Homo sapiens: one gene and its partner. The protein of the gene in region 2 purifies or fractionates together with the protein of the main gene of each other region. This does not show direct contact. Each region holds a gene or a part of one and is shown on either strand. Other genes may lie near its edges.

Region 1 (4,837 bases), on a different chromosome or scaffold from region 2:
ACACATATACACACACATCCACACACATCCACATACATCCACATGTACACACACATACACACATACATACACATACACACATCTACATACATACATACCTTCACACACATACATACACACAGTCTTGGGAGTGTAAACAGGATGTCCAGGAGTCTCAAGTCAGCCTCCCCCATTCCCTTAGCCAAAATGGTAAAACCTTCCTCAGCCCAGGAAGTAAAAATAGCAAGTATGATGTTGATTACAGTAATTAAAGTGCTCACAATTTGTGAGTTGTCCTTTCACGTGTGACAGTGTAAGCATCATCCCAGCTTTCTCACGTTTGGGATGTGTTTAGAGATGAAGTTGAGAAAACAGAAATTAAGGATTAATGGATAATTGGACAGAACTTAAAAACATTATTTTGCTGCTACAAGTTGTGCCCACTTAGATATCGAATCCTGGCATGTGACGCGTGGGTTCAGGGGTGTGATCTGGATGGTGTTCAGCAGGCTGGAGTGTATGAGAGGAATTTACGGGGGAAAGTAGAAGGCCAGCAACAGGGGCTTGATCACAAGGCATATATCGGGTGGGAGCGTTTCATCACCGTGAAAGAGGATACTTGTTTGCTGTCCCTACTGATAAGGGAAAGGTGTGGGTGCTAACGCTATGTGAGGATGATGGAATACAGCTTCACAAACCCTGCCTTGAAAAGCAACCCAGAGGGAGGACACCAAAATGCTAACAGCAAGGGAAACTGATGCATTCAGTCGGTGCATCAGAAATCACCGCTGAGAAGGGCATGTTCTCCGCACTGTCTTTAAGCACATTACAGATTTTTCCCATCACGCGTCACTTTTGTCATGAGCTATCCTCCTTAGCTGCTTGGAGCTTAGGGCTGCACCCCTCTGCTCTCTCCCCCTCTCCCCACCAACCCGCACGCTGGTGCATTTGGCTTTGATTGCAATCCTTCATTCACTGACTCTGCACTTAATGGTCACCTACTATGTGCTGGTCACAGTGCCGAGTACTGGAAGAAAACTGTAAATACAAGTCATTTTTTCTAGTGGAATTTTCACCCTATACCACAGTCCGGGAGGACTGAATGGTCTGAGCGGGACCACTCTACTATTACAGTTGAGGACACCAAGATTCCACAGAGTGTGTGGTAAAGAGCTTGAGTTTCTGGGCCCAGGCTGTCTGGGCTGGATCCCAGCGGTGCGGCAACTGGGCGATGTTATTTGAGCTTTCTGAGCTCCGCTGCCACATCTGTAAAGTGGGGATCATACTAGGACACACCTACCTAAACGACTGTTGTGAGGACAAGACGAAATAGATGATGTGTTGTGTCCAACGCATGGGACAGGCCTGGCGCACAGGAAGGTGGGGGATGCATGTTGAGTGAATGAATGGTTACCCGGCTGTAAGTAGTTAAGGCGGACAGCATCCCAGGGTCTCTGGCCCCACAGCCTAGGCTCACCCTGCACCTGGCTCAGCGGTCAGCCGGCGCCCCAGCACCTGCCCCGCGGAGCCCGTGAGCCCTGGCTCAGGGCGACCCCGAGCCGCGCCCTCTCCCACCCCGCCCGCAGGTCGGCGCTGCTGGGCAAGGTGCTGCGCATCGACGTGGACCGTAAGGAGCGCGGCCTGCCCTACGGCATCCCGCCCGACAACCCGTTCGTGGGCGACCCCGCGGCGCAGCCCGAGGTCTACGCCCTGGGCGTGCGCAACATGTGGCGCTGCTCCTTCGACCGTGGCGACCCCTCCTCGGGCACTGGCCGCGGGCGCCTCTTCTGCGGCGACGTGGGCCAGAACAAGTTCGAGGAGGTGGACGTGGTGGAGCGCGGCGGCAACTATGGCTGGCGCGCGCGCGAAGGGTTCGAGTGCTACGACCGCAGCCTGTGCGCCAACACCTCTCTCAGTGAGTGCCCGCGCCCCGGGGACCCCGGCCCCGAATCCGCCCCCACCCCACCCCACCTGCTGTGCCGCAGGGCCTCCCTCGGAGACCGCACCCCCCCCCCCCCGGAGATCCCTGACCCTGAGTCTGTCCTCGGCCCCACTCTATGGGCTGTGCGGCAGGGCCTCACTCGGGGACCACCCGCACCCCAGGCACCCCCTGACCCTGGATCTGCCCCCACCCCAACTCCACGGGCTGTGAGCCAAAGCCTCCTTCGGTGACTGCCCCCGCCTCCACCCGGAGCCTCCCTGCGCCTTGGAGGCCTCCCAGCAGCGCTCTTGAGTTCTTCCTCGCTCCATCCCCACCTGGCACCCCTGCAGACACGCTTTCCACCACGCCAGCCCTGCTGTGGGCACGCCAGCCCTGCTGTGGGCACGCCCCTCCCTCCGTGGCCGCCCCACCCCCGCGGAATCCCTCCGGAATTCTCCTGGCTGATGAACCTTCCCGCCGCTGGCTCACCGAAGCTTCTCTCCCTCCCACCCCGCAGATGACTTGCTGCCGATTTTCGCCTACCCGCACACGGTTGGCAAGTCGGTCACAGGGGGCTACGTGTACCGGGGCTGCGAGTACCCCAACCTGAACGGCCTCTACATTTTTGGGGATTTCATGAGCGGGTAAGTGACCTAGTGCCCTCGCGCCCCTGGCTGCTGCCACTGGCTCCTTGGGACTGGCTCCTTGGTAAAGGGGAGTGTATGTGTGCGCCCGTTCCTGCACATGTGCCTCGCTGCTCTGACAGGGGCCCCTAGGTGTGGGCCGGACACCCGCATCCACCCGCTTTTCTCCTGAGATGTATGGTGAGCCTTTGCTGCAGGCCTCAGTACCTCTATGATAGACACACAACTCATGGCATTAAAGACTGGAGGCTTGCTTAAGTGCGGGTCCCGTGGTCTTCCTCTCCCTCCTGAGAACCATGGGCTCTGGGCCTGACAGCAGTTCTGATGGGCAGGAGGGCAGAATATGAACAATTTCCTGGACACTCAGGGCCACCCTGCTCCTGGGGAAGCCACAGCTTGTCACTGCAACAGCTGATGGGGGCCTGGAGCCCTGCCCCACCCCACCCCAGCCAGGACTGCAGGGAGCTTGCAAAGGTTGAGAAACTAAGACCCGAGAGAACAGTGGCTGCCCATGGGCCTCCTAATGGGGAGAGGAGGAGGTGGGGCTCTTGTGGCCTTGGAGCCTTGCTGCCCTGCCCCCGTGCTCTAGGGCAGCAGTACCACCCACTGAGACCCTGCTGTGGGAGGAGGATGAATCACATCCCAAATAGGTTTGATGGGGGAGGGAAACCTACATCACAACCCTCCTTCGAGTCAGGCTCTGTCCCCAAGGGTGCTTATGGAGCCTCGTGACCACCTTGTCCCATTTACAGAGGAGAAAGCTGAGGACTAAAGAGGCCCAAGGGCAGGCTGAGACGGCTTGGTCTGAACTCTGGCTCAGTTACTGGCCAGGTGACCTTGAGCCAGTTACTTCACCTTTCCTTATCTTCAGCTACCTCATCTGCAAAATGGAGATGATCATAGTACTTGCCCCTAGGGTGGTTTTAAGGACTGAATCAGTTAATACATAAATATCACTTAGAATCTAGTGTGGAAAGAAAGAAAGAGAGAGAAAGAAAGAGAGAGAGAGAGAAAAGAAGGAAGGAAGGAAGGAAGGAAGGAAGGAGTACATGCTTAATATATGGTGATTTTTTTTTTTTGAGACAGGGTCTCATTTTGTCACCCAGGCTGGAATGCAGTGGCACAGTCTCAGCTCACTGCAGCCTCCACCTCCCAGGCTCAAGCAATCCTCCCACCTCAGCCTCCTGAATAGTTGAGATTATAGGCATGTGCCACCACGCTTGGCTAATTTTTGCATTTTTTGTAGAGATGGGGTTTTGCTCCATTGCCCAAGCTAATCTTGAACTGGACTCAAGCAATCCTCCTGCTTTGGCCTCCCAAAGTGCTGGGATTACAGGCTGAAGGTACGGTGCCCAGCCTGGTGTTTCTTACTTATTTCCATGCAACCTCCTCTGGCAGCAGCCGAATAGGGTTCCTAAGGAGAGGGAATAAAGACATGAAGATGCCTGAAGCTAGTGGGAGAATTCTGATTTTGTGTCCAGCCTGCAGCCTGGAGCTGAGAGAGATACCTGACCTGGGCCCCTGGAAGTTGGATTCCTCTCCCAGATCCGCCCCTTCCCCGGGGACCCAGCTTTCCCATCTGGAAAATGGGTACAGATGAAGCCTCTGTTTTTACCCCTGATTCTCCTTTCTCCCTTCTGTCCTTCCCAGGAGAGCCCAAGTCTCCTGACCACAGAAATTCAACTAATTTTGCCAGTATTTTCCCAGCCGCTCTGCTGGGTCAGGCAAGAACCAGGATGACAGAGATGAATAGGACCCCTCGTACCCGAGCCAGGGAGACAGACCCATTCAGTCCACTGCACTGCAACCCCAGAGAGCCTGTGCACAGTGTCGGGGAGCCCAGCATGGGGGCCTTCAGGGAGGGCTTCACAGAGGAGGGGACATCTCTAAGCAGGGCCTGGAAGTATTAATAGGTGATTGACAAGCAGCGATGGGAGTAAGGAGCAAGGTTAGCATATTCCAAAGATGTTGGAGCTCCAGTGCTTGGCAGGTTCTGAAACCAGTGAGCTCTTGAAAGCGCTGTGCCCTCTGTAGGATCCAGTGGGCTGGATTGCATTCAGCGGGCAGTAACCAAGCCGGTCTTGTTCGTTCCTGTGGGTGTCTGGTAGGTGCTGGGTGAAGATTGCACACAGTGACAGCTTCATGGACATACCACATGTGCAGTCACAGAGGGCCCGGTACCCAGAAAGGTTCACCCTTGATCTCATGCTCTGTGGTCACCATCTTGAATTCTTAATATGTTTTGGACAAGTGACCCTGCATGCTCATTCTGCATCGGGCTCTGCGAATTGTG
Region 2 (4,837 bases):
TGGCTCAGCGTATGGACCATCTGTGTCCAGGGAAAAGGCTGTTTCCTAGGAGTTAGCAGTTACAGCCTAAACACCCCCAAACCATTAACTGTTATAATTTTAATGATTTGCTTAAAGTATTTGTGGGGCCAAAAAGCCTGGTTGAAGGGAGGCCTCATGGGAGTCACCCTGGAGCCCCCAAGTGCCATGGCCGTCCCTCCCCCAGCCCGTCCCGAGCCCACCTGCTGCCCCCCGGGGCTTGTCTGACAGCCTGACAGGGCAGGGCTGCACGCTGCCCCCGTGCCGGTGCCCCCAGCCCTCCCCTTGGGTGCTGTGTAGATGGATATTTTTTCAGTGCACAGTATATACTTGTGTCCAGGAGTTAACTTTATAGCTGCCATTCTAAAAATACTACTGTTAGAAAGTATCTTTTGTTATAATTTCAGAATATAAAAAGGCATATAAAAGCTATAATCCTATATATCTGAGAAAAATTCTGAATAAAAAACTGGTAGCTTTTCCTTTCCTGTTTTGCTATAAAACAGTGGCTTTCTAGAACGGTTAATACTGCCCCGAGTGAATGCGTTTGGCATGGTACGAATGAGGCTCCCGTCTGTGGAATCCGTCCCGTGTCTGCTGTGGAGACAGCGGAAGCTGCTGTCCTGGCTTCTCCCCCTAGGGGCGCCGGGATGGTCGCAGGAAGGAAATGCTTCTGGACATGCGCAGCCGACCATGACCCCAGCCACGGCAGGAGGCCTCGAGGATCAGTCTGGGCCACGGTACGCTCTGGAGCAGCAGCTTGCACTGCAGGGCGACCACCTCCCAGGACCCCAGCCACGGCACGAGGCCTTGGGGATACCACCTGGGCCACGGTATGCTCTGGAGCAGCAGCTTGCACCGCAGGGCGACTGCCTCCCTGCCACGCCTTCCGCGGAGGGGCCGCCCGCGGTGTCTTTCTGCTGGGGTTGGGTCTTTTACCTGGGTCTTTTAGCCAGGAAAGCTATTTTTTATTGGCAATCCTTCGTTTCCTCGTTGCCAACATGTCATAGAAGGGATCTCTGCTGATACTGGCTCTGGTGAAAAAAGGAAAACACACAGGTTAGGTCGTGGGTGACACACAGACCTCCCCTTTCCCACCAGCCCCAGAGGCCCCTCAGACAGGACCGCAGGCTCAGATCTGAACGTCGGCTTTGGCAGCCCGGCCCTCTGGGGTTTCTGGAGACAGAAGGTCCACTCTTGCACACGGAAGCATCCATGTTCCAGACCATCCCCCGCCCTCCAACCGGCACGAGAAGACGGGCCTGGCCCCGCCCCCGAGGCCCCACTCACTTGATGGATTTCATCCACTCCTCCTTCTCCTCCGGGCTCGGGGCTGAGATCCGGTACACCACATGGTTCCCCTCTACCACGCGGCCGTCGGCCTCAGTCTTACAGGCCTTGATGACCTGCCCTTTGTGGCTGGGATTGTAGAGCTCAAAACAGTTCTGGTGGAGAAAGAGAGAGGGGAGGCGGTCAGGGGGGCTTGGGGCAGGTTCCCTGCAGGCAGTGAGGATGGCTCCCAGGTGGCTGGCAGGAGAGAAGGTTCAGGAGGAAGAGCTTACGGGTTTCCGGGGGTCCTCCACCTCCCTGATGCTGAGGTTTTCCAACGGGATGATTCCCCTGGGCTCCTTATCCTACAAGAGGAAAGTACACGGCGGGGCTCACTGTGGGTCACCAGCCTGAGGGTCCCTCGGCCCCAGGGCAGCTCCGGGACTGCTGGGAGGCGGCAAGGAGGCCTGGCCCTTACTTACTGTTGTGTATTCAAAGTAATAGAGGCAGTTATCGGTCAGGATGAACCACCGGCGCTTCCAGGTCTTCACACGCCCTCCTAGAAGCAGAAGGGCCCCGTGAGTCTGCGCTCCGTGCACAGGGAGCCCGCGGGTCCAAGAGGGGGCCCTGGACCTGCACAGACCACTGCGTTTTCAGAAAGGCCACCAGGCGCCAGGCTTGGGTTCAGGTGTCCTTCAGCGTTCCCACCGCAGGGCCCCACATGCACCCACCCCGCCCACACCGGCGCCCCCTCCACGGCACTGATGGGCCCCTTGATGACACAACCGCGCTACAATTCGCTTCCTGGGAGAGTTAGTGGGATGGATGGCGTCATTTTCCCACATGAGATGGCAGTGTGATGAAGTCAGGACTGCGCGCCTGGCTCTGTCCAGGACCTGACCCCACCATGTCAGGTGGTTATCGCATTACAGAGGCCCTTGGGCAGCCCTGGGATCCATCAAAATCAGTCACCCCTGGGCCCAAGGAATCGTGAGACTGAATTAATTTTGTAACAAGATCTGGAGCACACGTGCACACGCACGTACCCCCATCTGTACCTGCCCTCCTCTCCCTAAGGGAAGGAAATCTCTGATCCTTAAACACTGAGCAGAGACAAACTGACTTCAGCTGCTATAGCCTTGCCGGTGTTTGTTTTTTAAATAATTCAAAGAAATACACGCTGGTGACAATGAACTCAAGTGCTCCCTGGGGTACTAGGCCCTCTCTGCCCCATGCCTCTCCAGCGCTGCGGAGCTCACCCGGCTTTCTCTGTGACAGGCCGGCAGGGGAGTAGCCCTCCCTCCCTAAGTGGGGGCCAGCACGGGCGCTGAGGCCTGGAGGCAAGACTGTGTGCGAAGGGCTCTGTGGATGGATCACCAGGACACAGGGGGCTTTCCCTGTTGGGGCCTGGTTTGCAGAGACCCTGGGTGAGGAGGAACCAGCTGCAGGTGGGAGGAAGCCTGGCTCAGCGGAACTGGAGGCCGGAAGCGGGTCTCTGCAGTCCCTCTGGGACCCTCTGGCCCCTGCCTCACTCAGTGCTGCCGTCCTCCTTTGATGCCTAAGGCAGCCTGCAATGCGGTTGCCACCGCCAGCCTGGAACAGGAGCCCAGCCTCCAGCTGTTCCTCCTCTCCCCACAGGCCCCAGTCTCATCAGTGTCCCACCAGCCTACCTGTTAAAGGGTCTGTCTAGACCCTGGTCTGGGCAAATCTGCCCCCAAGCTCTCTGCTGCATCTCCCCAGCCCTCAGACCCTGCCCCCAACATCTCTCCTGAGCCCTGGCGGGGCTTCCACTCCCCGAACCCCTGCAAGCTGCTCCGTCACTGGAACCCTCTGCCCCAACTGTGGCACCGCCTCACTGGTCCCCTTTAAGACCCAGCCAGGCCCACAGCAAGGCCCAAAGTCCTTGTTGCCCTCGTGTCCCTGTCTCACCGCGGGCTCCATGCTCTCTGCAAGCCCTTGGCCTTCACCTTCCCCACCTCCACTGCAGCACACCAGGGAGGCCCAAGTCCACAGGGGAGGGCAGGAGACCCTGGGGGCAACCTGCCTTGTCCCACAGTCCTCCAGTGAGCAGTGAGAGGTGTTCTATGTCCCCGAGACCCTAGGGACAGGAGGACAGTGCTGATTCCTTCCAGGCACTTGCTCCAGCTTGAACTGCTGTGGCAGAATCAGCTGACAGCAACTCCACTACCCTGACATCCGTCACTGTCACGGTCGCCTCTGCTTCCCTCCAGAGACTCCAGAGCAGGCCCCGCTCCAGCTGCACTGGTGCCAGCTGCCATCCCCCAAACAGCGGCCAAAGGCATCTTTTCAAAAACGTGGCAATCATGCCCCTCCGGCTTGAAGCCCCCCAAAGGGTCCCACTGCACTCAGCTTTAAACCCAACTCCTTGGGCGGCAGCAGGGGCTGCCCTTCCTGGCTCCCCAGCTGTGGCCTTTCTCCCTGCCCTGTTATCTGAGTCTCCAGTTCTTGGGGAGCTCATCCAGGAGCCCCCAGGTTGTGTGTTTCTGTCCAGCGCCTGCTCTCTTCCTCCACGCTCCCAGCATGGTGGACAGCAAAGGACCTGTATGTTCCACTAGCCCACACACCTGGCCCCGCCTGGGAGGGGTCTGCCAGGTGGCCTCTCAGCTCCACCTTGGGTCCCCCGCTCACACCTCCCATGCAGAGCCCCATCCCTGTCCAGTCCTCAGGGCCAGGGGGTCGTTGCAGACCAGGACTGCAGGCCCAGGGAAGGGGTGATAAGCTTGGTCTCAGAGCCGAGCAGGCTCTGCTCACACTTGTTTCTGGCCACACCACACAGCATTCTCGCCTGCAGACAAGAGCCTGGCTTCTGGAACCTGCAGATGGGAGCCACTTTCTCTCTGTAAGTTTCTGTCTTCATTGCCGTTAGCAGGCAGGCGCGTACGTGCACACACAGGTCCACATGCACACACTTTCTGTATGGCAGCTCGGATTGGGCCACCTCCTAGGATTTTTTTTTTTTTTTTTTTTCTGGTGATTGATTCAAGACTCGAAGTCTTAAGTTACCAACAATCGTAAGCCACGCCTGTGTACACAGCAGGGCTCCTACGCTCTGGCAAAGCATCCAGGCCTTTTTAAGACCACCTGTTCTAAAAGCAAATCTACAATAAGAATGCAACCAAGCCAGGCCGCACTCCCCGCTGAGCACACGCCTGGAAGCACGTTCTAGATCCTGCACCCATCTCGTCTGCCTCCAGCCAGGGCCCTGGCTCGCCAGCCTTTGGTCTCGAACTTTGTTTCTGAGAACACAGCAGACATACAGGGTGCTGGGAGAGGACAAGGAAGCCAGCCCCTAGAGCAGCAGGTGCTCACCGGGCCGCCCACCACACTGAGGCCACGCCAGCTGGACCAGCCCCTCCAGGGCCCCTGCGCTTGGCACCCGGCGCCCAGCCAGCTCTTGGTTCCCGTGAGCACTGTGTGCACTCATTTCATGGCCTGTTTATCTGCCCAACCAGAAAACAGGTTAGACAACACGAGCTCTGCTGTGCCTTCATTTCATTCACACACTTACGTCTCTAGAGCCGACCTTTCC

What was found. Proteins that work in one complex are often made in the same cells at the same time.
Region 1: the proteins of CYTH3 (region 2) and HHIPL1 purify together in Homo sapiens (co-immunoprecipitation; one large-scale study listed by IntAct). This does not show direct contact.

What each region holds. Positions count from the first base shown.
Region 1 is NC_000014.9:99,657,863-99,662,699, forward strand, and holds part of HHIPL1 (HHIP-like protein 1 isoform a precursor), read left to right. Parts: intron 1-1,565; coding exon 1,566-1,894; intron 1,895-2,417; coding exon 2,418-2,544; intron 2,545-4,837.
Region 2 is NC_000007.14:6,163,965-6,168,801, forward strand, and holds part of CYTH3 (cytohesin-3), read right to left. Parts: intron 1,847-4,837; coding exon 1,770-1,846; intron 1,653-1,769; coding exon 1,581-1,652; intron 1,464-1,580; coding exon 1,309-1,463; intron 1,053-1,308; coding exon 980-1,052; 3' UTR 1-979. UniProt on the Homo sapiens protein: Promotes guanine-nucleotide exchange on ARF1 and ARF6. Promotes the activation of ARF factors through replacement of GDP with GTP. Plays a role in the epithelial polarization.